Linked DNA regions of Homo sapiens. The protein of the gene in region 3 interacts with the protein of the main gene of each other region in a pairwise test. Each region holds a gene or a part of one and is shown on either strand. Other genes may lie near its edges. The genes, in order: FASTKD1, SPATA12, EIF2S3 and GABPB1.

Region 1 (7,027 bases), on a different chromosome or scaffold from region 3:
TTCTATTGTATGAGTATGTGCAGTTTATCCATTGTACTCTTGATGGACATTCGGGTTTTTTGCAGGGTTTTGCTATTACATATGTGTTGCTGTGAATTTTCTTATGCTTGTTTTTTAGTGAATTCAAAGTCATAAAATCTATAACAGTTCCTTTTTCCTCTCTTTTGTCTTGCCATTTTCTTGTTGAAGAAATTGGATTATTTCTCCTATTAAAAAAATTCATAGCACTGTTGTAGTAGCAGCCATTATATTTGTTAATATGCAACCTTGAGTCAAAATTGTTCTGTCATCTAAAAAAATTAAGTAAATCATTCAAATAATTTTTAGTGATTTTCCCCCTTTCAAAACCTTTCTACAGTATCTGACTTTTTAACTGTTGCCATGTTACTTTTATAATAATAACATTTTAGAAAAAAAATTTTATGTAATTTACTATTTTGATTGCTTTTAATTTTATAACTATATATTATGTGTTTTAAGTGAAAGTAAATACTAATGTTCTCCTTTGTATATTTCCTTTAATAGGTTTGATATTAAACTGCTCTCAGAATTTTCCTCTTGCCTAGCAGATCAGCATTTGTATTTTAGTCCATTAATGGGAAAAATAGCTGATATTGTTCATAGGAACTTGGAAACCACACAGGACTTAAGGTAAATTTATTTAGGGAATCTTGTGTTGTGGTGGAAAGATCCTGGGCTTTGGATGTGGATGCAGTCAGATTTGCTACTCTTAGTTTATGTGACTTAAGGTTACTTAAGCTCTTGGAAGTTCGTTATCCTCATCTGCAAAAGAGGGATAGTAATAGCTACTTTGCAATATTGCTGTGGGGATTAGACATAAGGTACATAAAGTGTAATACAATATTGTTGAGGTCTGTGGAGGATCTGAGTTTTTACCTATTTGCAAGCTAAGTTTGCCTGCCACATTTTCCTACGTGTGCCGTAGGAAGGCCTGAGACTCCGAGGTCAGAGAGAGGACTTTGTTTTTTATAGCAATAGCAGTAGCAGAGTACCAGAATTTTCTTGTGTTGATTCCCTGAGCTCTCGTTCCCATAATGGGTTGTGATCCAGGAGAGGAGCTCTGAGCTTAGGAAACCTGAATCTTTTATAATAAAGCATGCCTACTCTGCTCCAACAGGAGACATTATCTCTATTCTCCTAGGCTGTTTGCTATGCAAACATCCTTGAAAAGATAGTTCTGAACAAAGGCAGTCAGAAACCCACTGAAAATGGCCTCTGAATAAGTATCTAGAACATAGAAGTTTCTCAGTAATGGATAGTAGGTATTATTATTATATCATGAAGTAAACCCAAGAAGTATTTAAATTAAGTATGAATTCATTGGCCAGGCATGGTGGATCACACCTGTAATCCCAGCACTTTGGGAGGCCGAAGTGGGTGGATCACTTGATGTCAGGAGTTCGAGACCAGCCTGGCCAACATGGCAAAAATCCCATCTCTACAAAAAATACAAAATTAGCTGGGCATGGTGGCGGGCGCCTGTAATCCCAGCTACTCGGGAGGCTGAGGCACAGGAATTACTTGAACCTGGGAGGTGGAGGTTGCAGTGACCTGAGATTGTGCCACTGCACTCCAGCCTGGGCAACAGAGCAAGACTCTGTCTCAAAACAACAATAACAAAAAACGAAAAAAAAACAGTAACAAAACTTGAAACAACAACAACAAAATCCAAAAAAACCAAAAAATAAATTAATAAATAATTAATTTACAATAAATTAATAAATAATTAATTTACAATAAATTAATAAATAATTATTTTACAATAAATTAATAAATAATTATTTTACAATAAATTAATAAATAATTAATTTACAATAAATTAATAAATAATTAATTTACAATAAATTAATGAATAATTAATTTACAATAAATTAATGAATAATTAATTTACAATAAATTAATAATTAATTTATAATAAATTAACAAATAATTGATTTACAATAAATAAATAATTTATAATAAATAATTTACAATAAATTAATAAATAATTATTTTACAATAAATTAATAAATAATTTACAATAAATTAATAAATAATTTACAATAAATTAATAAATAATTTACAATAAATTAATAAATAATTTACAATAAATTAATAAATAATTTATAATGAATAATTAATTTATAATAGATTAATAATTAATTTATAATAGATTAATAATTTATAATGGATTAATTTATAATTAATTTATAAACAAATTCACAAATTTTACATACAATTATGTCTTTTTTATTCTTTCCATCTGGGAATACTTTCTTTTCAGTTTCATAAAGGAGAGTTAATAGTTACATTTGCTGAATGTCAAGGAACTATTAATTTGAAACTAACATTTAAGGAGTTTCTCTGGTTTTCATACCAGTGGTTTGAGGGTTTGTTTTGTTTTTAACATAAGATTACTTACTGTCAATGCTAACCTTCATAATCCAGTACTATGATTGTCTTTGGCGTTTCAGATACAGCTTTTTCTCTCATATTTACAAAGTGATTAGCACTTTGGTAAAATTAAATTATAGTAGTTTCCTGCTCTTCTTGCCCCACTCCACCCTACTTCCCTGCCTTTTTTTTTTTCTTTTGAGATGGAGTCTCCCTCTGTTTCCCTGACTGGAGTGCAATGATGCAACCTCTGCCTCCTGGGTTCAAGCGATTTTCCTGCCTCAGCCTCCTGAGTAGCTGGGATTACAGGTGCTCGCCACCACATCCAGCTAATTTTTATATTTTTAGTGGAGATGGGGTTTCACCATGTTGCCAGGCTGGTCTCAAACTCCTGACCACAAGTGATCTGCCCACCTCGGCCTCCCAAAGTTCTGGGATTACAGGCATGAGCCACCATGCCCAGCCCCTTGCCTTTTTTTTAAAAAAAATACACTTATGTGGCTGGGTGCAGTGGCTCATGCCTGTAATCCCAGCACTTTGGGAGGCTGAGGTGGGAGGATTGCTTAAGCCCAGGAGTTTGAGACCAGCCCTGGCAACATAGCAAGACTCTGTTTCTACAAAAAAAAAAAAAAAAAAAAAAAAGAATTGATCATTCTTAATTGATGTAAAAATCTTTGCATCTTTTTTCTTTTTCAGTTCCTTGTCTGTCTTGATGGTCAACATATCTTCTTTAATATCACGACATTTTCAACAACAACTGGTGAACAAAACAGAACTTCTTTTTGACACCATAGATTCTTCTGAGGTCAACGTTGCAAAAAGCATAGCAAAGTTTCTTCGAAATGTTAGATATCGTTATCAACCACTATTAGAAAGATGTAATAACGTATTTTTAAGTAATGTGGACCACCTTGATTTGGATTCCATCAGTAAAATACTTAGTGTATACAAATTTCTACAATTTAATAGTTTTGAATTTATTATAATGGCTAAAAAGAAGCTAACTGAAATGATTCCTCTGTGTAATCATCCTGCTAGCTTTGTAAAATTGTTTGTAGCATTGGGACCCATTGCAGGACCTGAAGAAAAGAAACAGTAAGTTCAGTTTAAAATGCATTACTTTTTTTGTTGTGAATACGTGGAGCCTTCAAGCTTAGGTCTCCTTGCAGCTCTGGAAGGTACAAATATCACCCTATTAGGTTGTGGAAGGGAAAATAATCTCTTATGCTCTGCTCCTTGATTCTTTTTCTGATTATTCTAATTTACATCTCAAACTCTTAGTCTGTTGCTGTGTTCTGAAAGGTAAACCTCTGATACTGGGCCAACATGAAAAAAAATGAGGGGAAACGCCATGTGTTTTTATTCTCCCTTTTGTGCTACATGACTGGATTTACACATATAAGACTCCCCCACCCAGTGTAAGTCTGTGGAATATTTAGAATTATAGTAGTCATAGCAGAGGGCCATTTTATGCTTTGCTGTCTTCATCACAATAATCATCAAAGCATTTATTATGCACTGGGCATATGTTCCCATGTCAGGTTTGAGCAAATTTTGTGTGGCGCCTCTCATTTAGGAATTTCCAGTTTTGCTAGATACTGATGTAGGTAGTAATATTTGAAATATAATGATGAGCAAATATTAAATTAACATACAAATACGGTTAATAGATAAGAGTTTCTCTTCCTAGGCCATGTGACTGGATTTATACTAGACATAAACTTCCCCCACCCAGCATAATTGTATGAAATATTTAGAATTACAAGCTGGGCACGGCGTTGCACGCCTTTAATCCCATCACTTTGGGAGGCCGAGGCAGGTGGATCCCTGGATCCCAGGAATTTGAGACCAGCCTAGGCAAGATGATGAAACCTTGTCTGTACAAAAAAATACAAAATTAGCCAGATGTGGTGGTGCCCACCTAGATTCCCAGCTACTCATGAGGATCACCTGAGCCCAAGGAGGTTGAGCCTGCAGTGAACTGACATTGCGCCATTGAATTCCAGCCTGGGCACAGAATGAAACCTTGTCTCAAAAGAAAAAATAAAAGAAAAAAATAAGAATTTTATATAATAGTCCTAACACATAAGTATGATTAGTAGATTCACTTAAGCAGGGGTTCCAAGACTTGCACAATAGGGGAATCTGTATCATTACTCTGTTAGGGAAAACTTTACGGAGAAAGTTTTATTTTTTAAGAGTACTTTGTGGCTGGGTGCGGTGGATCATGCCTGTAATCCCAGCACTTTGGGAGGCCAAGGCAGGTGGATCACCTGAGGTCGGGAGTTCAAGACCACCCAGACCAACATGGAGGAACCCCGTCTCTACTAAAAATACAAGATAAGTCGGGCATGATGGCAGCGCCTGTAGTCCCAGCTACTCGGGAGGCTGAGGCAGGAGAATCGCTTGAACCCGGGAGGTGCAGGTTGCAGTAAGCCAAGATCGCGCCATTACACTCCAGCCTGGGCAACAAGAGCGAAACTCTGACTCAAAAAAAAAAAAAAAGTACTTTGAATTATATGAAAAAATTTAAGAGCACATCTTAAGACTATATCAAGATGGAAACAAGGTGATTATTAAAAAAAACTATTGGGGCCCAGCACGGTGGTTCACACCTGTAATCTCAGCACTTTGGGAGGCCAATGCTGGCAGATCACTTGAAGTCGGGAGTTTGAGACCAGCCTGGCCAACATGGTGAAACCCCGACTCTACTAAAAATACAAAAAAAAAGGGCCGGGTGTGGTGGCTCATGCCTGTTATCCCAGCACCTTGGGAGGCTGAGGCGGTTGGATCACTTGAGGTCAGGAGTTCGAGACCAGCCTGGCCAACATGGTGAAACCCCGTTTCTAGTAAAAATATAAAAAATTAGCCGGGCGTGGTGGTGGGCACCTGTAATCTCAGCTACTTGGGAGGCTGAGGCAGGAGAATCGCTTGAACCTGGGAGACTGAGGTTGCAGTGAGCCAGGATTGCGCCATTGCACTCCAGCCTGGGCAACAGGAGCGAAACTCTGTCTCAAAAAACAAACAAAAAAATACAAAAAATAATTAGCCGGGAGTGATGGCAGGTGCAATGGTGGGCATCTCTAATCCCAGCTACTCTGGAGGCTGAGGCAGGAGAATCGCTTGAACCTGGGAGGCGGAGGTTGCAGTGAGCTATCATGCTCCTGCACTCCAGCCTGGGCAACAGAGTGAGACTCCATCTCAAAACAGACGAAGAAACACACACACGAACAAACTTTATTGGAACCGTTTTTTGTCACCAAGTACTGTTAAAATCTCAGTGCTAAAGCAATAAAACAGTTGGGTTTAACTGAGTCTGTCTTCAAGGAATTTATATTGCAATTGAGAGGATAGATATAATTGAAATATGTAAATACTGTAACAACATAGTTTATGAAGAAACAATAAAATTAGTGATATGGATAGTGCTGTGAGCAGACAGAAGTGAGAGAAAAATATAGACTGAAGTGGTTGGGAAAAGTTTGTGGAGAAACTGGGTTTGAAACCTTTGAAAAGGTTGGTGGAAAGGATGGCATGGAGTTATCCATGTGAATAGACAATTAGTTTATCCTATCAGATGTCACGTTTCGAGCTTGCTTTCTAAATGATTCTAAAAAATACACGTATCATGGTACTTAACATTACTGCACTACTTTGGATAGTTCAAATGACAACTAATCATAGTCAAAATGGACCAGCTTTGTTAATTTTCAGTTTATACTGTTATATCAAGTGCTTAGTATATGAGATTTCTGATAATATGCAGGTTTATTGACTCCTAGATGTTCCTATTCAGTTTTAAAACATTTGGGAAATTGTCAGAATATCAACTGTTCATTTCTTAGCTCTCTAGTATTGAATAATTTCACTGAATCATAGTATTTTATAACCATTATAACCTTGTATTATTTGAAAATCTTAAAATATCTTTTACCTGTATTTTTCAAACAGTTTAAGATTGGATTATAATGAGGCCTGAATTTCATTGAAGAAGACAATATATTTTTCTTTATTCAGTAATATTTTATATTCGAGTAATGTGGGGAGAACACTAGAATTATATATTGGATTCAGTTTTTGTTTATATTTTTTTTCCTATTTGTTACCCAAGAACTGTTATTTAAAAAAAATTGCAAGCTAATTTTCAGTCTTTCAACCAAAAACTTTTTTTTTTTTGCTTCTAGACTTAAATCAACTATGTTATTGATGTCAGAGGACCTAACTGGCGAGCAAGCCCTGGCAGTGTTGGGAGCAATGGGAGATATGGAAAGCAGAAACTCATGTCTGATTAAAAGGTATCTTTTCTGAAATTTACGACGTTAAGTTTGTTGTCATTCACAAGCACCTATTTTTTTCTAAGGAAAAATGGTTTTCTTCTTTAATCTACCAGTTGTTTTGAAGAAATAAGGAATTAATGCTTAAGCCACTGTTTATGTTCTACTTTGTTTTTCTTTTCTTTTTTTTTTTGTTTTTTTGAGACAGAGTCTCACTCTGTTGCCCAGGCTGGAGTGCAGTGGCACTATCTCTGCTTACTGCAACCTCTGCTTCCCTGGTTCAAGCAATTCTCTTGCCTCAGCCTCCTGAGTAGCTGGGACTACAGGCGCCCACCACCATGCCCCAGCTAATTTTGTTT
Region 2 (7,361 bases), on a different chromosome or scaffold from region 3:
GAACCTGGGAGGCGGAGGTTGCAGTGAGCCAAGATTGTGCCACTGCACTCCAGCCTGGGCGACAGAGCAAGACTCCATCAAAAAAAAAAAAAAAAAAAGAAGCAGAGCAAGTATGCAGGGAAAAGTGATCATGGGGAGCCTCCCTGCAATGTTTGAGCCAAACTAGATATGGGAGGGAGCTGGCCCTAAGAGAAGGGGCAAAAGTGTTCTGGACAGGAGGACCAGCAGACTCAGAGGCTGAGCAAGCAAAGGGATTGGGACATAGCTGGAACATCCATGAGACCAGGAGGCATGACGAGGAGTGGAAAGGGCATGTTAGTTAAGGCAAGAAGAGATGTGGATTTTTTTCTAAGCAGAATCGGTTATCGTTTCTTTTTCTTTCTTTTTAGTTTTTTGTAGAGACAGGATGTAGCTATGTTGCCTCATGTTGGGCATGGTCTCAAACTCCCGGTCTCTGTTATCTTGAACATATACCACAAGGTCCTCTATGAGGTTGATGCACCACAAAAGACTATGGGATTGAAGGGCATTCAGTCAACTGGTCCACCCTGAAATCCTTCTATCCCACCATGGTTCAAGCAGGCGACAAAACACAAAGGCTCCTCTTGGCCTTGACCATGCAGGTCTATACACACACACACACCCCACACACCCCTGCCCCCTGCCCCCTTCCATCTTTTCCTTTAGGTCTAAACACAAGCAGGCTGTCACTCCACCTGCCCCCTTGGTAGTACCTCCAGCTGTAGTCCCGTTATGATCCTGGGTAAAATGGGGTCTACACTGCAGGTTTCTGCATTTTTTAATTTTCATTATTATTATTTTTTGAGATGGAGTTTCACTTTGTTGCTCAGGCTGGGGTGCAGCAGCATGATATCGGCTCACTGCAACCTCTGCCTCCTGAGTTCAAGTGATTCTCCTGCCTCAGCCTCCCAAGTAGCTGGGATTACAGGTGCGTGCCACCACACTTGGCTAATTTTTGTATTTTTAGTAGAGAGCGGTTTTGCCATGTTGGCCAGGCTGGTCTCGAACTCCTGACCTCAAGTGATCCGACTGCCTTGGCCTCCCAAAATGCTGGGATTAGCTGTGAGCCACCGCGCCCGTCCAGGTTTCTGCATTTCTGTTCATGATTTCTCAGCACTTATCCCAACTATAATTTTACTTGCATTCATGTGACTATTTGATTAGTATCTGTTTCCTGAGTGAGTCTTGTCTGTTGACTCTGGTAGGGTAGAGTCTGAGCCGGTCTTAGCCACCAAGACTTCCTCAGCACCTAGCACAGGGCCTGGCCCAGGGTAAGTCACACCCACACCCACACCCCCACACAAGCTTTTTTAAAATGTAAAAGTTTAAATACAAACGGAGAAAGAATATAATGTACCCTCTGTGCCACACATCATACAATTTGAGTGGTCAACTCATTCCTAATATTATTTCTTCTACACTCAACCCAGTGAAGCGAACTCCAGCCATCGTATCACTTGATACATACTTGAGTGATATAGAGTAAGTGAATGAATGACTGCCTCCTACTATAACAGACAAACTGGGGGGCTTAATTCTTGCTCTCACTGATTTTACTGTCCATACTAGACAGACAAGGGAGAGTTGAGGAGGGGCCACTTAAATGAGTCAGTCAGTTTTGCCACCAAGTTAGCAACTCTGATAAAATTTCAGATGAAACTAAAACTATTGTCCAAAGTGAATTTCCTTTTCCTCATATTGACTGGGCTTTAACCCTTCAGTCGTGTCCTTGCCATGGCCACATTCACCAAAAGCCGACTGTAAAGGAAGGGAGGGTTACCTATTTCCCACAATCTCTTTCAATTAAAAGTCCTGAAAGAACAAGTTTCTTTCCATAAAATAAGCCATGTGGCCTTTTACACAGAAAAATAAGGAATGCCTGGAAATTAGTATTACCACTTGCTCCCTCAAGGGCCAATCTACATTACACCTATTTTCTCTATTTTCACATTTATGAGAACTTGTTCCAAATCAGTCTGGTCTTTTTGAAATGCCATTACAGTTTTACATACATTGGACAAAACTGTCATAGACTGTGATGCTCTCGGCGTCCAGCAAAATGAGTGATACTTGTACCCAATGGGTTTGTTTCATGTCACCTGCCCTTCAAGGTCCCAAAAGTGTGCATAAAAATAACAACTTGAAATGCTCACATGCCAGGAAACAACAGGTGCTGGAGAGGATGTGGAGAAATAGGAAAACTTTTACACTGTTGGTGGGACTGTAAACTAGTTCAACCATTGTGGAAGTCGGTGTAGCGATTCCTCAGGGATCTAGAACTAGAAATACCATTTGACCCAGCCATCCCACTACTGGGTATATACCCAAAGGATTATAAATCATGCTGCTATAAAGACACATGCACACGTATGTTTATTGCGGCACTATTCACAATAGCAAAGACTTGGAACCAACCCAATGTCCAACAATGATAGACTGGATTAAGAAAATGTGGCACATATACACCATGGAATACTATGCAGCCATAAAAAATGATGAGTTCATGTCCTTTGTAGGGACATGGATGAAGCTGGAAACTATCATTCTCAGCAAACTATCGCAAGGACAAGAAACCAAACACCGCATGTTCTCACTCATAGGTGGGAATTGAACAATGAGAACACATGGACGTAAGAAGGGGAACATCACACACCAGGGACTGTTGTGGGGTGGGGGGAGGGGGGAGGGATAGCATTAGGAGATATACCTAATGTAAATGATGAGTTAATGGGTGCAGCACGCCAACATGGCACATGTATAGATATGTAACAAACCTGCACGTTGTGCACATGTACCCTAAAACTTAAAGTATAATAATAATAAAAAAAAGAAATGCTGACATGCAATCATACTTAACTATGCCTTTTTTTACTATAAAATATATTCATTACTTGTATTTTCTAAATTTTTTCATAAGCACAGGGAAAAAATTTTAAGCCTTGTCTTTAAGCCTAGAGCAAGGGTGTCCAATTTTTTGGCTTCTCTGGGACACACTGGAAGAAGAATTGTCTTGGGCCACACATAAAATACACTAACACTAACAATAGCTGATGAACTAAAAAAAAAACTCATAATGTTTTTTAAAAGTTTATGAATTTGTATTGGGCCACATGTTAGACAAGCTTGGCCTAAAGATAAGTCACATTTTGGAGTCTGTTCTTCCCCGTGTGTGTATGAGTTGGGGGTGGGGGGAGGGAGGGTGGTGAGCAGCATGATTACAAGTCCAGGCTCCTTAATCAGTGATAGGTTCAAATCTGGCTCTGCTATCTGCCACCCACATAGCCTCAGGCAAGTTGCTTCCCTCCATAAGCACATTTCCTCTTCTGCAAAGTAGGACTGAAATGACTGCCTGATGGGGTGACAATGAGGCTTTAAAAAGACGAAGAGGGGCTGGGTATGGTGGCTCACGCCTGTAATCACAGCACTTTGGGAGGCCAAGTTGGGCAGATCACCTAAGGTCCAGAGTTCAAGACCAGCCTGACAAACATGGAGAAACCCCATCTCTACTAAAAATACAAAAGTAGCCAGGCATGGTGGCACATGCCTGTAATCCCAGCTACTCGGGAGGCTGAGGCAGGAGAATCGCTTGAACCTGGGAAGCAGAGGTTGCAGTCAGCGGAGATCACGCCATTGCACTCCAGCCTGGGCAACAAGAGTGAAACTCTATCTCAAAAATAAAAATAAAAATAAAAATAAATAGATGAAGTGAGGGACAAGGCATGGTGGCTCACACCTGTAATCCCAGCACTTTGGGAGGCCAAGGCGGGAGGATCACTTGAGCCTAGGAGTTCAAGAGCTGACTGGACAACATAGCGAGACCCCATCTCTATAAAAAATTTTAAAATTAGCTGGGTGTGTGACATGTACCTACAGTCCCTGTGGGAGGATCTCTTGAGCCTGGGAGGTCAAGGCTGCAGGGAGCCGTGATTGTGCCACGGCACTCCAGCCTGGGCGACAGAGCTGAGATTCTGTCTCAAAAAAAAAAAAAAAAGGAACTTAGCCCAGGGCCCGTATGCAGCAAGCACTTAAATGGTATAGCTGCTGCTACTCGGGTTATCAAAAAGGAGCTGCAAAAAAGTCTAGGTTCTGCAGGAGAGCCCTTCCAAGAACCTGCCCAGGAAGTGGGTACACCTGTCCCCACCCCCACAGTAGGAGTCAGAATCAGGGACTGGAAGGGATGGGGTTCCTGGAGGAAGCTCACAGCAGCAGCAGCCTCTGAGTCACAACTCAGCCCCTCCCTGGCATATCCCTTTGTTTGCTGGGAGTTGAGCTGTGACTCACAAAGGCTCTGGTCCCGGGCTGGGCCCATGTGACCCAGGGTCCTGACTGCCCTGCCCACAGTCACTGAGAAAATTCTTTGTGCAGGCTCACCTTCCCCTCATCTCCCCCACTCTTCCTGATCCTGCAGCGTCAGATCCCAGCCTGCAGTATCAGACCTCAAAAGGAGCCTCTGGTGTCTTGTGAGTAGTTTACCTGCCGCCCCACCCCCACCCCGAAACACACACACACACATGGGCACACACCACCACCACTTCTTTTTTGGCCTGTGCCTGTTTTTTCACTGTGCTACATTTTGACATAAGTTCAATCTATAAAGAAAAAGTCCAGGAGAGTCCAACTCCTCTTATACTCTTTTTTATTGTGGTAAAATATAATATAAAACATACCACTTTAACCATTTTTAAGTGTACAGTTCAGTGACATCTAGCACATTCACCATATTGTACAACTCTTACCATTATCCATTTCCAGAACTTTGTTGTCATTCTAAACAGAAACTGTGTACCCATTCAGCGGTAACTCCTCCTGCACCTGCCCCTCTCCCAGCCCCTACTGTATTAATACTTCTCTCTCTAAACTTGCTATTCCAGGTACCCCCTGTAAGTGTCCTTTTGTGACTGACTTTTCTCATGTAGCATAATACTTTCATGGATCAGCATGTTGTAGCATGTGTCAAAAATTCCTTTATTTATTATTATTTTTTTTTTTGCAATGGGGTCTGGCCCTGTCATCCAGGCAGGAGTACAGTGGCACGATCATAACTCACTGCAGCCTCAAACTCCTGGGCTCAAGAGATCCTCCTATCTTGGCCTCCCAAAGTGCCAGCATTACAGGTGTGAGCCATCTCACTCAACCAGAAATTCCTTCCTTTTTAAGGCTAAATAATATTCCATTGTATGTACATACCACATTTTGTTTATCCATTCATCTGTCAATAGACATTTGTATTATTTTTACCTTTTGGCTATTGTGAATAACGCTGCTGGGAACATGGGAATGCAAGTATCTGTTTGGATCTCTGCTTTCATTTCTTTGGGTATATACCCAGATTTGGAATTGCTGGACTATATGATACCTCTATGTTTAACTCCTGTTACACTTTTAGGATTCTGGCAGCCACCACAGCTAACTCTCAGTGAGCAGTCTCTCATCCTGTGTTACTCACCACTCTAAGAATTTTTATTAACTCATTTAGTCCTGAGGTGTGGTATAATTATTTTCATCCCCATTTTACAGACAAAGAACCTGAGGTGAGAGAGGTCCTCCTTCTCAGATGGCAGCATCAGTATCTGAGCCCGCATAGGTTCAGATTTAAATTGTTTCTCCGGTTGTGACAAAAACAAGGTGCTGCTCTGCCTACAAGCATTTTCTGCCCTGAATAATGCCTTTGGGAGGGTTTCCACATCTTTCCTTGCTCTGGACTAAGGATCAAGTAAAAAAAGAGAGTGGGGCAGGGATGCTCCACTGGATTGGATCTGTCTAGACTCACTGCTAGCAGTGAGAAATCCAACTCCATCTAGATGGGTGAGAAGGGGGATTTGTAGGAAGATCCCTGGAGCAGCTCAGTCATGTGACTAGATCCAAAGGCAATGTGCCCAACCCTCCCCTCGCAGCTCCACACTCTGGGCCTGTCCTCACTGCTCTAGCGCTGGGTGAGTGCCTTCAAGCACCTTCTCTGCCACTTCTGAGTGGGTTAGGATGACCCTGAGGAAGCCCACAGCCTGGCAAGGGTGGCTTGTGTCTAGCTCCAGACCGGCTACCACAGCCGAGGGGAGGGGAACCATGATAGGCCCAGCCAGGACCACAGCCCCCACTCGGGCTCAGGCTAGGCTCAGGAGCACGGCGGCGGGGGCGGGGGGTGCTCAGGAGCATGGGGAAGCCTTTCAGAGAAGAGGGAAGGAAGCAGGGCAAGTGCCCAGCACAGATGCTGCATAATCTACAATAGCAAAAGATTGGAAGCTGCCCAGTAGTACTGAACAAAACAAGGTTAAATAAAGCTGCTCTAGCCACTCAGCAAAACACTATGTAGCTGTTTAACAAGCAGGAATATCTGGTGGGAATGACAGGACTCGCTGTTTCTCTGTCTACACACATGCACACACACACACACACAACAAACATGCACACACACATACATACACATATGTAATAATTCACAGGTAAGAAAAATATAGGCAAGAATTATATCATAATAGAAGAATCAAATGGCTTTTAATCTGTTTACCAAACTTTTCTTTACGGGTTCAACAAATTATTGTCTGTACCAGGCAAGGCACTGGGGACATGACAGGGAACACAATAGAAGAAAAATCCCTGCCCTCATGGAATTTACATTCTAGTGGGGGAGGCAGATGACAAGATAAATAAGCAAAATACACCTTATATTGGATAACGATAGTGTAAGGAGAAAAAGCAATGAAGGCAAAGGGGAAGTTGGGATGCAGTGGTAACGGTTTAGACACGATGACCAGGGAAGGCTGAAGGAAATGAGGGACCAAGCTCTGCAGATATTGGGAGAGGTGCATTTTGGGCAGCGGGAATAGCAGGTGCAAAGGCCCTGAGGTGCCCACGCAGGGAACAGCATGGAGGTGATGTGGCTAGAGTGCGGTTATGAGGGGGAAGGGCAAACTAAGAGAGGAGTCAGAGAGGAAATGCAGCCAGATCACATGGGGCCTTGCAGCCAGCCACCCTAAAGGCTTTGGCTTTGTTGCAGTGAAATGAGAGCTATTTGAGGGCTTTGAGCAGAGAAGTAGCCAACCCTTCAGAAGGTTCCCTCTGACTCTGAGTTGAGAACAAGCTGAAAGGAGGTAAAGGCAGAGGCTTGGAGGCCGCAGTCATTCAGGTGAGAGGGGAGAATGACCTGGAGGGTGGTAGGAGCGGGAGGGGAGCAGTGGCCACTCTACAAGTAGAGTCTTTTGACAAGTGAAGAGAAGAGAGATACAAAAGTCAAAGATGACGCCCCAGGCTTTGGGCCTGAGCAACCAGGAGGTTGGGGTGCTCCTTAACAGAGATGTGGGAAGAGGATCAGGAGAGTCGGGCATCCTAGAAGCCAGGTGAGA
Region 3 (7,027 bases):
CTAAAAGTATCACTTAAACAAAACAGAAAAACAACTCATTGGATTGAAGGGATTCTTTTTCTAGGCTTCCTGAATTTCTTTTAAACAGCGCTGTTTCTGTATGTTAAATAGGAGAGAAACAGAGCCATTTCTAATTACTTCTCTAAAACACTTGAACTTGTTCCCCATCTGTTTTCTGAATATGATTGCATACCTGTTTTTTTATCAGGATACTGACACCTGTCTAGTGATGTTTATGGGGATTGGAGATGCCCTACAAGGAATGTTTAGATTGGGGCAGGGCTGGGACCAGGGAGGGACAAGTGAGGCCTTCACCTCAAGCCCAAAATGTAAGTGGGCCTGGCGGTGGCAGGTATGCCAGAAAACTCAGTAATTAGGATAAATATTTTAATGCAGTGTTTTTTTTAAATTAATGCAAAAAATGTGATAAATCAGAATTTTAAATAAGGGCAGACTCTATTACTAAATTTTTTTCCCCTTTTGCTTTGGCTCAGCATGGCATTGTATTTTGTTTATGATTGATTTTTTGCATTAATTTCGACTTTTTAAAAATACTGAATGCATATATTTTTTTTTCTTTCTTTTTTTTTTTTTTTTTTTTGAGACAGTCTCTGTTGCCCAGGTTGGAGTGCAGTGGTGCGATCTTGGCTCACTGCAGCTTCCACTTCTGGGTTCAAGCAATTCTCCTGCCTCAGCCTCCCGAGTAGCTGGGATTACAGGCGTGAGCCCCCATGCCCAGCTAGTTTTTATTTTTATTTATTTATTTATTTATTTTTGAGACGGAGTCTTTCTGTGTCGCCAGACTGGAGTGCAGTGGTAGAGACGGGGTTTTACCATGTTGGCCAGGATGGTCTCGATCTCTTGACCTTGTGATCCGTCCGCCTCGGCCTCCCAAAGTGCTGGGATTACAGGCGTGAGCCACTGTGCCCGGCCTAGTTTTTATATTTTTAGTAGAGGTGGGCTTTTGCCATGTTGTATAGGCTGGTCTCGAACTCCTGGCCTCAAGTGATCTGCCCGCCTCAGCCTCCCAAAGTGCTGGGATTACAGGCATGAGCCTCCATGCCCGGCCATTTTCCTTGATTACTGAGTTTTTTGGCAGTCTCTTAAATTTTGCACTTGTCTCACTGTAGTCCTGGCCTTTAATAGGGGATCAGCAAACTTTTTCCACAAAGGGCTAGGTAGTAAATATTTTCAGCTTTGCAAGCCATAGAGTTTCTGTTGATTCTGTTCTTCTATTACAGAAGCAAACGTAGACAATACGTGTGTAAATAGGTATGGTGGTGGGCCAGATTTGGCCTAAGGGCTGACCTCTGTTTTAGATCATGACAATGTGAGCATGCGATTAAAAAAACAATTGTGACTCTGAATGAATACCATAGTTTTGTTAAAAGTGCTGCCATCTCTGCTTCAAATGGGCAATTCTAGTTTTTCAAGGTGTTAGAGGTATTTTTGGAAAATTGTTTTTTTTTTTCTCTTTTTTTTTTGAGACGGAGTTTCACTCTTGTTGCCCAGGCTGGAATGCCATGGTGCTATCTTGGCGCATTGCAACCTCCACCTCCTGGGTTCAAGCGATTCTCCTGCCTCAGCCTCCCAAGTAGCTGGGATTACAGGCATGCACCAGCTACATGTGGCTAATTTTGTATTTTTATTAGAGACCGGGTTTCACCACGTTGGTCAGGCTGGTCTCAAACTCCTGACCTCAGGTGATCCACCTGCCTTGGCCTCCCAAAGTGCTGGGATTACAGGTGTGAGCCATTGCGCCCAGCCAGAAAATTGTTTTTTCAAATTCTCATTCTGTTAACGTGGTTTTTATAAGTCATTATAAGTTTTAGCTTTCAAATCAATGACATTCTCAGTATATACTCTCCACCATTATTCTATACCATATTCATTTTCATTGGATTTTGGAGTTTATCTTCCATTCTGCACATAACTAATTTAATTTGCTTTGTAATCTGCAGTGGTTTTCATCAGCTGGTGAACTTATTTCCAAGTTCTAGAAACGACAAGCCCTGTAACCATTTTATAGCAATAAGATTATTTCCTAAGTTGATTTAACTTTAAAAAATCTAAAACTAGCATGTGTAAGTAGTGATTTATGTTAAGGCTGATTGTTATTTCTCAATCATTAGACATGTTTCCTTTGTTGACTGTCCTGGCCACGATATTTTGATGGCTACTATGCTGAACGGTGCAGCAGTGATGGATGCAGCTCTTCTGTTGATAGGTAAATACCTCACAATTGGTTTGGACAAATCAATGTGGAACAAATCCAAGATGAAATATTTAAAGGGGAACTAAGGCCTTTAAGGATCATATCTATTACCTAAGGGTGACATGAATGGGAACTAACATGTCATCCAGGATGACTTTCCTACCTATCAGCTATCACAAAATACTCAAAAAGATAGACTTGGGGCTGATAGCTTGCGAGAATTCTTGTGGTAGCATTTGAGAAAAAGAAAAAAAGTCAATAGTTCATTTTTCTCATTTAAATCACATGAGGTGATTTATTTAGTTTTAAATGTATGTGTAAAACTATTTGTGTTATGGTTTGTGTGTGTGTATGTCTGAACTGTCTACTGTGGAAGTATTTAAGATACAAATATTCATAATACGTGCTGAAGTGTAGGAATAAGTGGAGTTTTGAAGGGTAGCGTATGCTTTGTTTCTTATGTTAGCTGTTGAGAGATTTCATTACTAGGGGGTAAAATTTTTTAAAAGCTGCTGGTGCGGTGGCTCACGCCTGTAATCCTAGCACTTTGGGAGGCTGAGGTCGGCGGATCACCTGAGGTCAGGAGTTTGAGACCAGCCTGACCAACATGGAGAAACCCCCTCTCTACTAAAAATACAAAATTAGCCGGGTGTGGTGGCGCATGCTTGTAATCCCATCTACTCAGGAGAATCTCTTGAACCCGGGAGGCAGAGGTTGCAGTGAGCCAAGATTGCGCCATTGCACTCCAGTCTGGGTAACAAGAGTAAAACTACATCTCAAAAAAAAAAAAAAAAAAAAAAAGCGACTGGGCATGGTGGCTCATGGCTGTAATCCCAGCACTTTGGGAGGCCGAGGCAGGCGGATCACTTGAGGTCAGGAGTTCAAGACCAGCCTGGCCAACAGGGCGAAACCCTGTCTCTGCTAAAACTACAAAAAATTAGCCAGGCTTGGTGGTGCGTGCCTGTAATCCCAGCTACTTGGGAGGCTGAGGCACGAGAATCGCTTGAACCCAGGAGACAGAGGTTGCAGTGAGCAGAGATCGAGCCATTGCACTCCAGCCTGGGCGACAGAAGGAGACTCAGTCTTAAAAAAAAAAAAAAAAAAAGCTGGGTGCGGTGGCTCACACCTGTAATCCCTGCACTTTGGGAGGCCAAGGCAGGTGGATCACTTGAGGTGTCAGGAGTTTGAGACCAGTCTGGCCAACATGGTGAAACCCTGCCTCTATTAAAAATACGAAAATTAGCCGGGTGTGGTGGGGCACACCTGTAATCACAGCTACTCAGGAGGCTGAGGCAGGAGAATCGCTTGAACTTGGGAGGCGGAGGTTGCAGTGAGCCGAGGTGACGCCACTGCACTCCAGCCTGGGTGACAGAGACAGAGTGAGACTCAGTCTCAAAAAAAAAATTTTTTTTTTAAAGCATGCCATGTTGGTATAGTCAGGACACTTGAATATCACGACTTGAGGAGGTTGATCATTAGAGTGCTCAACAAAACATGCCTATTTCTTTATAATACACTGTTGGTTATCTTCACAATAGCATTCTTCCCTCCCTCAGTTGAAGAGTAGCCTCTGATATTAGTAAAAATTCATAGACAGTATTAAGTGCTTTTCCCTTTTAATTACTCTCTACTTCTCAGGAGCTTGCCTGGGCCAGAACATTTCTAAAACTGGAGAGAGTTAGAGGGCTATACCTCATACCTGAGCAAAAGCTGAGTGCAGACCCTGAGAAAAGCCAAACTTGCTGATTTTAAGCTTCTTGCTTAGGACCAGGATTGGGAGCCACACAATTGGGAGGTTCCAGTGAATGCAGGCAACAGAGGATGAAGCAGGGCCAAAAGGTGGATACCTGGCAATAATATCTTCCTTATTAGGGTTAGAACATTCAGAAGTCTCCTTTATTAGATGCCAACTTTTTTTGGGGCGGGGAGTGGGTGGCAAAAGAGACTCATAAAATGTACCATTTTATGTATTTACAGGGTAGAATTTAGTGGCATTAAGCACATTGACAATTTTCTACAACATAGTGGTTGTCATTTCACCACTATCTAGTTCCAGAACTTTTGTATCAGAACTTTTGTATCACCGCAAAAGGAAACCCCATGCCCATGAAGCGTCAGTCCACATGTTTTCCTCCCCCAGCCCCTTGCAACCCATAATTTGCTTTGTCTCTTTATGGATTTGCCCGCCTATTCTGGATATTTCCAGCTATTCTTATATGCATCTTTTTTATTCTTCATCAACTAGCTGGTAATGAATCTTGCCCTCAGCCTCAGACATCGGAACACCTGGCTGCTATAGAGATCATGAAACTGAAGCATATTTTGATTCTACAAAATAAAATTGATTTGGTAAAAGAAAGTCAGGCTAAAGAACAATACGAGCAGATCCTTGCATTTGTCCAAGGTAAGAAGCCATAATATGAAATAAATCTATGAATCACTTTGAGAGGCATTTACTCTGGATACCAGATGTTAAATTAACTTTTAATATATTATCTAAAACAAGGTAAACTTACAAGTCTTAAGCCTTATCGCCCTACCTTTTGCTTGTTAGTAACCTGATATAACTAATGAAACCTGTGATTCTGAATTTAATATACTAAAGTATATTTTTGCTGGCAGCAAGTTAGAACTGAGGTTGTTTTCTGGAAACTTTATCAATCAGATTAAAAAAAATCTCAGTGACAGTAAAATGAATAAAATAATTTTAAAAAACCTTGTCTTACAGTATTTGTTACTGAACAGCTTTCAGATTTGGAAGTGACAGTGATTATTTAATCTCTAGAGTGTCGGCCGGGCATGGTGGCTCACACCTGTAATCCCAGCACTTTGGGAGGCTGAGGCAGGTGGATCATCTGAGGTCGGAAGTTCGAGACCAGCCTGACCAACACGGAGAAACCCCATCTCTACTAAAAATACAAAATTAGCAGGGTGTGGTGGCACATGCCTGTAATCCCAGCTACTTGGGAGGCTGAGGCAGGAGAATCGCTTGAACTTGGGGGGCGGAGGTTGCGGTGAGCCGAGATCACGCCATTGCACTCCAGCCTGGGCAACAAGAGCGAAACTCCATCTCAAATAAATAAATAATAAATCTCTAGAGTGTCCCTTCTCTAATAGCATAATGTTTTTCATTTCAGAGGAGATGTGATTTATTGTTGACATTTTCTCTCTCAGTCTTGTTTTTCTTTTTAGAAAGGTTAATTTCTTATGAACTCAGTTCTGTCATCACGAGAAGTAATAAGTGAATTTGATTAAAGTCTAATTGTGTTTGGTCTATTTCTTTGACTAGCTTGTTTGACGTATAATCAATACGTAGCAAATATATATGGTTGGGCGTGGTAGCTCACACTTGTAATACCAAGACTTTAGGAGGCTGAGGCGGGTGGGTCACTTGAGTCCAGGGGTTCAAGACCAACCTGGGCCACGTGGTAAAACTCTGTCAATACAAAAAATTAGCTGGGCTTGGTGGCACACACCTGTGTTCCCAGCTATTATGTAGGAGGCTGAAGTGGGAGGATCGCTTGGGCCTGGGAAGTGGAGGTTGCAACAAGCCGTGATTATGCCACTGCAGTCTAGCCTGGGTGACAAAGCGAGACCCTATCTCCAAAAAAAAAAAGTATATATGCCAGCAGTCTTTGATTAGCAGAGTCTGTAATTTTATCTTGACATTTATTGGGAGATTAATTACATGTTGTTAGAAATTTTTTCAACTAGTAGAGTGCTCTTTCACAGGAATGTTAGTATTTTCTTTATTTAAATAAGTTTATCATTGTACTAATATTAAGTATGTCTACTAATATAATGTAACAAATTTTCTCTTACAGGGATTTGTATTCATTTTCAGGAGTAAAAACAAACAATATTGCCATCTTTCTAAACAGAATTATCCACTTTCCACTTGTTGCTGACATTTATATGGGGTTTAGGCATCTATTTTATTATAGTAATCTTAATTGTTTTATGTAACAGATACATAGAATAAATTTTATAAAACTGTATAATTTTGATCTTTCTAAATTTTGTCATATAGGTACAGTAGCAGAGGGAGCTCCCATTATTCCAATTTCAGCTCAGCTGAAATACAATATTGAAGTTGTTTGTGAGTACATAGTAAAGAAAATTCCAGTACCCCCAAGAGACTTTACTTCAGAGCCCCGGCTTATTGGTAAGTGATAGGATTTGCCTTTAACTCTTAATCTGATCTTTTCCACATTGGTGATTCCTCTTCAAGGATGTTTATTAATATTTCCTCTTTCTGCAGAGGTGATAATTCATACAATTTTTTTGAAATCAATTCTGAGATTGTATTGGCAGTGCTAGATTGTATTACTGAATGAGGGACAGAGTCCTGAACACAGTAAGAACTGTTAACCTAAGCCGGGCGCAGTGGCTCACGCCTATAATCCCAATACTTTGGGGGGCCGAGGTGGGTGGATCACCTGAGTTCAGGAGTTTGAGACCAGCCTGATCAGCATGGTGAAACCCTGTCTCTACTAAACATATAAAAAATTAACTGGGCATGGTGGCGGGTGCCTGTAATCCCAGCTACTCGGGAGGCTGAGGCAGGAGAATGGCGCGAACCCGGGAAGCGGAGGTTGCAATGAGCTGAGATCGCGCCATTGTACTCCAGCCTGGGCAACAAGAGTGAAACTGCGTCTCAAAAAAACCCAAAAACAACTGCTAACCTTTCTGTGCTTAATATATGGTACATGATCAAGATGGAGTAATACAGTATTCTCCATGGAATCATAATGTTTTAGGGTGTTAGAACTTCCTGACTAAAACATTTACAGATGATTTTGTTGTTCAATT
Region 4 (7,027 bases), on a different chromosome or scaffold from region 3:
CTAACACAAACGGCAAGGAGAGAACATTAAAAAGCCTCAGTGGAAATAGTAACACATATATACTAGCTGAAAAGAGTCAGGATGAAGCCAATATTATTGACAAAAAAGATGTCCTCTGAAGCGACAATCTGAATTATGCTATTCCAAAACTGCGTAAGTTAGGAAAGTAGTAGTAAAAGAACTCAGGAGTTGACTAGCCTGGCCAACACAGTGAGACCTTGTCTCTACCAGGAAAATACAAAAATTAGCCAGGCATGGTGACACATGCGTGTAGTCCCAGCTACTCGGGAAACTGAGGTAGGAGGATCACCTGAGCCTGGGGAGGTCAAGGCTGCAGTGAGCTGCAATTGTACTCCAGCCTGGGCAACACAGTGAGACCCTGTCTTCGAAAAAAAAGTAAAAACTCACGGCAGCAATTGTAATTCAATTCTTAAAATTTTTGAAATGAAGAGAAATGCAGCAGATAGCTAGAAAGAACAGTAGCAGCAGTTCATCAAAATTGATTTTTTTTCCTCCCAAAGTACAGATGTCTGTACATTTTTTTTTGTTTTTTTTTTAGATGGAGTCTCGCTCTGTCGCCTAGTCTGGAGTGCAGTGGTGCGATCTCGGCTCACTGCAAGCTCCGCCTCCCGGGTACACGCCATTCTCCTGCCTCAGCCTCCCGAGTAGCTGGAACTACAGGCGCTCGCCACCACGCCCAGCTAATTTTTTTTATTTTTAGTAGAGACGGGGTTTCACTGTGTTAGCCAGGATCGTCTCGATCTCCTGACCTCGTGATCCACCCGCCCTGGCCTCCCAAAGTGCTGGGTTTACAGGCATGAGCCACCACGCCCGGTGAGAAGTCTGTACATATTTTAAGGTAGGGAAGAAAAAACATTGCAAATAACAATCAAAGTGACCAGAGAGGTAAAGTTAACTGTGGCAGCAGGATTCTTCTTCCGTTCAATTTACAAAATAAGATGAAAGAACAGTGATTTGTCATGGTTACAATGAAAAAAAAATGTGCAAGCTTGTACCCTGTTTTCCTTTTTCACTTATATAGAAGTAAATGGCATCTATTAAGAGTTAAAGAGGAAGAAGGAATATGAGACAACAGAAAAATGCAATTAATAAGATGATTGCCAAGAAGTAGGAGGGGCCTATTTGGAATTGTTCAGCGTAAATTTATAGTGGCCAAGAAATCTTCATAATTACTCACCTTCCTCCACAAATATGCTGTGACCTGTGAGGGAAAACAGAAGAAATCGATGGTGGAAAAATCTGACAACAGGAGTCCAGTAAAATATAAAATAAGTGATTGATGTCAAAGTGCAGACTGTATCTAGTGCATACAGGAGTTAAGCTAAACGTCTCAGACTGTTTGGGTTGCTGTAACAAAATACCATAAACTGGGTAGCTTACAAACAACAGAAAGTTTTTTTTTTTTTTTTTTTGTAGAGATGGGAGTCTCACTATGGTGCCAAGGCTGGTAGTGAACCACCTCACCCAGCCCAGGAGGCTGAGAAGTCCAAAATAAGGCACTGGCAGATTCAGTATCTGGTAAGGGCCAGCTTCTAGACATCTGTCTTTTTGCTGTAACCTCATGTGGAAGAAAGAGCTAACAAGCTGTCTGGAGTCTTTTTTTTTTTTTTTGAGACAGAGTCTCACTCTGTCGCCCAGGCTGGAGTGCAGTGGCGCCATCTCGGCTCACTGCAACCTCCGCCCCCCCCAGGTTCAAGCGATTCTCCTGCCTCCACCTCCTGAGTAGCTGGGATTACAGGCACCTGCCACTGTGCCCGGCTAATTTTTGTATTTTTAGTAGAGATGGGGTTTCACCATCTTGGCCAAACTGGTCTTGTACTCCTGACCTCCTGATCCACCCACCTCAGCCTCCCAAAGTGCTGGGATTACAAGCATGACCCACTGCACCCGGTCTGGAGTCTCTTTTTTAAGAGCACTAATCCCACTCCTGAGGGCTCTACCCACCTGAGCTAATCACCTCCCAAAGGCCCCATCTCCTAATGCCATCATCTTGGAGGTTAAGATTTCAACATGAATTATGGGGAGACACAAGCTTTTAGACCATAGCACTTAGGGCAAGAAACTGAGGGTCACTATGAATGGAACAAGTAAAGGAACACAGGAAGAATAATCACATTGGCAAAGATCACAGAGTTCACACAAGTCATTTAGGGCACAAAGGAAATTTTTTAGATCATTCACTTACACACCATACAAATTTTTTTTATTTTTTATTATTAAAAATAATAATAAATATGGAACACATCATAAATTTATGTGTCATCCTTGTGCAGGGACCATGAAAATCTTCTCTGCATCGTTCCAATTTTAGTATATGTGCTGCTGAAGCAAGCACTATACTACTAATTATTTTTTCCTCTGTTTGGATACATGGGAAGTGCTGTGGAAATAAAGGATTCCAGGAGTCAGAAGGGGCTATACATCCAAAACCGTTATCATAATGAGAAGAATTGACCTAATTCCAAAGTTCAGTACTGTAATTTTACAACCACCTCAGTCTCTACATGCACAGAATGGGTGCATTAAAGACAGGTATCACAGTGTCATCTACCCACCTCCTTTAAAGAATCACTACTATAGGCTGGGCGCAGTGGCTTATACCTGTAATCTCAGCACTTTGGGAGGCCAAGGTGGGCAGATCACTTGAAGTCAGAAGTTGGAGACCAGCCTAGCCAACATGGCTAAACCCCGTCTCTACTAAAAATACAAAAATTAGCTGGGCATGGTGGCGGGCACCTGTAACTGCAGCTACTTGGGAGAATCACTTGAACCCGGGAGGCAGAGGTTACAGTGAGCCTAGATCACACCACTGCACTCCAGCCTGGGTGACAGAGTGAAACTCCATCTGGAAAAAAAAAAAAAGAATCACTACTATAGTAAACCACCATAGTAAAAGTATCTTATCCCTCAAGTGTAATGAGACATAAACAAGCTAATTGGGTTATAGGAATGCTCAAGCCTCTTTCAGAAAAAGATTCTACATTATGTAATATAATCACAGCATTAGTGGGTTTAAGATATTCTTTAAAATAGAATCACAGTCAGGACCAACAGGAGTAGTTTTTTAAATTTTTTTTGGAGACAGAATCTTGCTCTGTCACCCAGGCTGCAGTACAGTGGCACAATCTCCGCTCACTACAACCTCCGCCTCCCAGACTAAAGGAATACTCCCACCTCGGCCTCCCGAGTAGCCGAGACACAAGCACACACCACGTCTGGCTAATTTTTGTATTTTTAGTAGGGACGGCGTTTCACCATGTTGGCCAGGCTGGTCTCGAATTCTTGACCTCAAGTGATCCGCCCGCCTCGGCCTCCCAAAGTGCTGGGATTACAGGCATGAGACACTGAGCCCGGCCATTTTTTTTTTTTTAAACTTTGAAACTTTTTGGCTGGGCACAGTGGCTCACACCTGTAATTGCTGCACTTTGGGAGGCCGAGGCAGGCAGATCACAAGGTCAAGAGATCAAGACCATCCTGACCAACATGGTGAAACCACGTTTCTACTAAAAATGCAAAAATTAGCTGGGCGTCGTGGCGCGCACCTGTAGTCCCAGCTACTCGGGAGGCTGAGGCAGAAGAATCGCTTGAACCCAGGAGGCGCAGATTGCACTGAGCTAAGATCGTGCCACTGCATTCCAGCTTGGCGACAGAGTGAGACTCCATCTCAAAAAAAAAATTTTTTTTAAATCATAGTATCAGTATGCTGAGTATTTTTTAAATCAAAGGAGATGGAGGTGGACATTTTCCATTATTTCATTTTAATTGACTTTAATTTACCATGCACTATAAAACTATAAAATACCATGAAAAGATGTTTTAATATTATAAAATAGGACTCAAAATTAATATTTTATAGGTTCCTTATCTTCAATTCCAAAAATCCAAAAAACTTCTGAAACCCAAAATAACTCATCTTGTGGTAAACCTTACCCAAACTGATATGAAGCTATTTACAGTCTTTATCCTATTTAGTGCGAACATTCATACATTTTGTTGCAGAAACAGTAACACTTTTGAAGGGGGATATTGCACTGGACTCTATTGGAAGGCTACACATTACTACCTTGCCCATATAAAAAAAAAATTCCTAATTCCATAACCTATTAGACCCTAAGAGTTTGAATGGTGGACTGTGATCCTATAATTGCTAACATTTATTGAGCTATTAACTGTTATGTTTCAGGTACTGTTCTGTTCACTTTATATGAAATAACATTTAATCTTTCCAATCATCATGAGCTAAGTATTATAATAATCCACATTTTACAAAGAAGGAAACTGAGCCACGGAGAGATTAAGTAAACTGCCTAAAATCACACAGCTAGAGTATGACTAACTGGGATGACACTGGGATGAATATTTAAAATATTACACATAAGAGTAACAACACACAACAAAATAATTGATTATGGTAGGGTGGTAGGAGTGATATGTTTCTCTACTCAATTGATATTACTTCTAGAATAAGGAATCAAACAAAAAATTACAAAACACTACATGCATTTACAAATTCTCATGTACAATTTCTACAAACTTGCTTAAAATGCAGAGTATAAAACCCAAATTTCTCAGCTTATGCTAACACATTTAATTTTTTATTGAAAAGTTACATCTTAATATCTTAATTACAACATGATAGATAATTTATATTCATTGTAGAAGTTAGAAAATTTGGATAAGCAAAAAGAAAACAATCACCTGTAAAACTACACTCAGAAATAACCATTTAACAATTTGGCACATATCCTTCCAGACATAATATATTTTTGGGTTTTTTTACCAAAATGGAATCATGTTTTTAAATTTATTTTTTCTCACTTACATATACCAAGACATCCTTTCATGTCTTTATATTATTCTATCATCATTTTCATGGCTGAGAAGGCAGTACCCCACTGTAGGGATGGACCCTAACAATCACTGTGAAACATTTAGGTTGTTTACAATTTTACCATATAATGATCAATAGTACTGGCTCTAGAGTCACACTGGTTGGATTCAAGTCCTGGCCCTAACACTTAACTAACTCAGGTACCTTGAGCAAGCAACCTCATTTCTCTATGCCTGTTTTTTCTTCTGAAAAGCAGAAATAGTACTACCCACTTCATATGATTACCGTGGGGCTTAAAGGCATTAATACACAGCTTTTATAATCAACAATACTGCATCTAGTATGCTCACAATTAAATATTCACACACATCTTTACTACATCAAAAAAAAAATTCTTTAAAGGGAATTTCCATGTCAGAAGGTATGCCAATTTTTAAAGCTGCTGAATCTACCAAATTACAGTGTGGTTTAAAGCCCTTCATTAAATAGCCTTCTCACTTAATACTCATTTCTCTTTATCCAGGAAGGCAAAAACTATTATCAAGTTAACCAGTTTGTTTCACTCAATTAGCTTTTTGTTCTTCCACCTGTAAACCTCGGCATATTTAATAAAACCTCAAAGTTTATAGGTAACTTGAAGACACCTAGCTCAAATTCTCCTTCAGTACGATTCCTCTACTCTAGAATCCCCAATTTGTCAGTGAACAGGAACAGCCTACCACCCAAAACAACTCATTCTATTTTCACAATTTTGAGGAAATTTATCTTGAAAGAGAATTGAAATCTGCTTCTTTTAAACTTCCACCCACTGACCCTAGTTCCTTCTGGTCAAGTCAAATCTGATCCTTCTGCATGACAGAACTCCAAATCCTTAAAAGTGGCTGTTACTTCTTAAAAGAAGCTCCTCTTCTTTAGGTCAAACATCCCATTTTTTCAACTTTTTCTCATTTCCATTTCTCTCATGATCAAGGTCCTCGTTTATGCTCTACAGATAAGTGATTTTGACACTTAGGTGTCTACCACCTTGGAAATGAGAAAAATTAAGGTCCGTTCCTACCCTACTTAAGTTTGGGCCTCTGTGTGGCTTTTTATTAGCTCTCCAGATGATTCTGATAAAGTCTGAGAATGAATACAAGGTCTCACTTATGATAGTATGCTACCCAAAAAGCCAACACAATACCCCAAATATAATATAACTAGTACACAGTAAAGTGGGGCTAACACCTTGCTCTGTCAATAAGCTGTTCTACCAACTTCAGAATTATTCACAGATGGGTGTGTTGGCTGACGCCTATAATCCCAACACTTGGGAGGCCAAGGTGGGAGGATCACTTGAGTCCAGAAGTTTGAGACCAGCCTGGGCAACACAGTGAGATCTCGTCTCTACAAAAAATTAAAAAATTAGCCAGACATGTTGGCAGGTACCTGTAGTCCCAACTACTCAGGAGGCTGAGGCAGAGGCAGGATCGCTCGAGCCTGAAAGGTGGAGCTTGCAGTGAAGTATAATCGCACCACTGCACTAAGCCTGGGTAACAGAGAAAGCAAGACCCTGTCAAAGAAAGAAGAGGTGCAAAGGGGAAAACAGGGAGGGAAGGAGAGAGAGGGAGAGGGACAGAGGGAGAAGGAGAGAGGAAAGAGGGAGGGAGGGAGGGAGGGAGGGAGGGAGACAGAAAGGTGCACTAGCCCACCAACTGAACTGACAGCTGATTGCACCAAAGCATCTTCTTTGTATAGAGCACTGTGATGTCAACACTGAGAAAAAACACAGGCCCTAATACTGATCTCATCTAGTGCTAGATTTACCTTCTAGAAAGCATGATGGAACAAACATCTTCAGAAAACTATAATACTAATTGTAGCTATCCCAATGTAGGCACATCAGAGCTATAGAAACATTGTGATTACTAGCTGGAAACCATACTAGTTGTTGGGGAGGAGAGGGGAGCAGAGGGATGACACTAAGGAAACTAAGTTGCTCTCAACTTCAAGATTTTGTGTGGGTTTGTTTTTCAACGTTTGCAAAGTCAGAAGAGATGGAGGCCATCAGTGAGTTCATCTGAACTCAGGCTACTTGCAAACAGAGACTGGGTAACTGCCTCGTGCACCCTCAAAAATAAATTCATGATGCAAAACTTCATGTAATTTCTGAATTTCTGAATTCCTCATGACGTGCAC

What was found.
Region 1: the proteins of EIF2S3 (region 3) and FASTKD1 interact in binary tests that used the Homo sapiens proteins (3 or more experiments, as listed by UniProt).
Region 2: the proteins of EIF2S3 (region 3) and SPATA12 interact in binary tests that used the Homo sapiens proteins (3 or more experiments, as listed by UniProt).
Region 4: the proteins of EIF2S3 (region 3) and GABPB1 interact in binary tests that used the Homo sapiens proteins (3 or more experiments, as listed by UniProt).

The regions. Positions count from the first base shown.
Region 1 is NC_000002.12:169,556,849-169,563,875, reverse strand, and holds part of FASTKD1 (FAST kinase domain-containing protein 1, mitochondrial), read left to right. Parts: intron 1-525; coding exon 526-651; intron 652-3,090; coding exon 3,091-3,489; intron 3,490-3,495; exon of another isoform or gene 3,496-4,952; coding exon of another isoform or gene 4,953-4,963; intron 4,964-6,578; coding exon 6,579-6,689; intron 6,690-7,027. UniProt on the Homo sapiens protein: Involved in the down-regulation of mitochondrial MT-ND3 mRNA levels which leads to decreased respiratory complex I abundance and activity.
Region 2 is NC_000003.12:57,056,306-57,063,666, forward strand, and holds the start of SPATA12 (spermatogenesis-associated protein 12), read left to right. Parts: upstream 1-4,358; 5' UTR 4,359-4,481; intron 4,482-7,361.
Region 3 is NC_000023.11:24,057,956-24,064,982, forward strand, and holds part of EIF2S3 (eukaryotic translation initiation factor 2 subunit 3), read left to right. Parts: intron 1-2,132; coding exon 2,133-2,227; intron 2,228-4,460; coding exon 4,461-4,619; intron 4,620-6,245; coding exon 6,246-6,380; intron 6,381-7,027. UniProt on the Homo sapiens protein: Member of the eIF2 complex that functions in the early steps of protein synthesis by forming a ternary complex with GTP and initiator tRNA.
Region 4 is NC_000015.10:50,345,174-50,352,200, forward strand, and holds part of GABPB1 (GA-binding protein subunit beta-1 isoform beta 2), read right to left. Parts: exon of another isoform or gene 3,763-7,027; intron 1,223-3,762; exon of another isoform or gene 1,199-1,222; intron 1-1,198.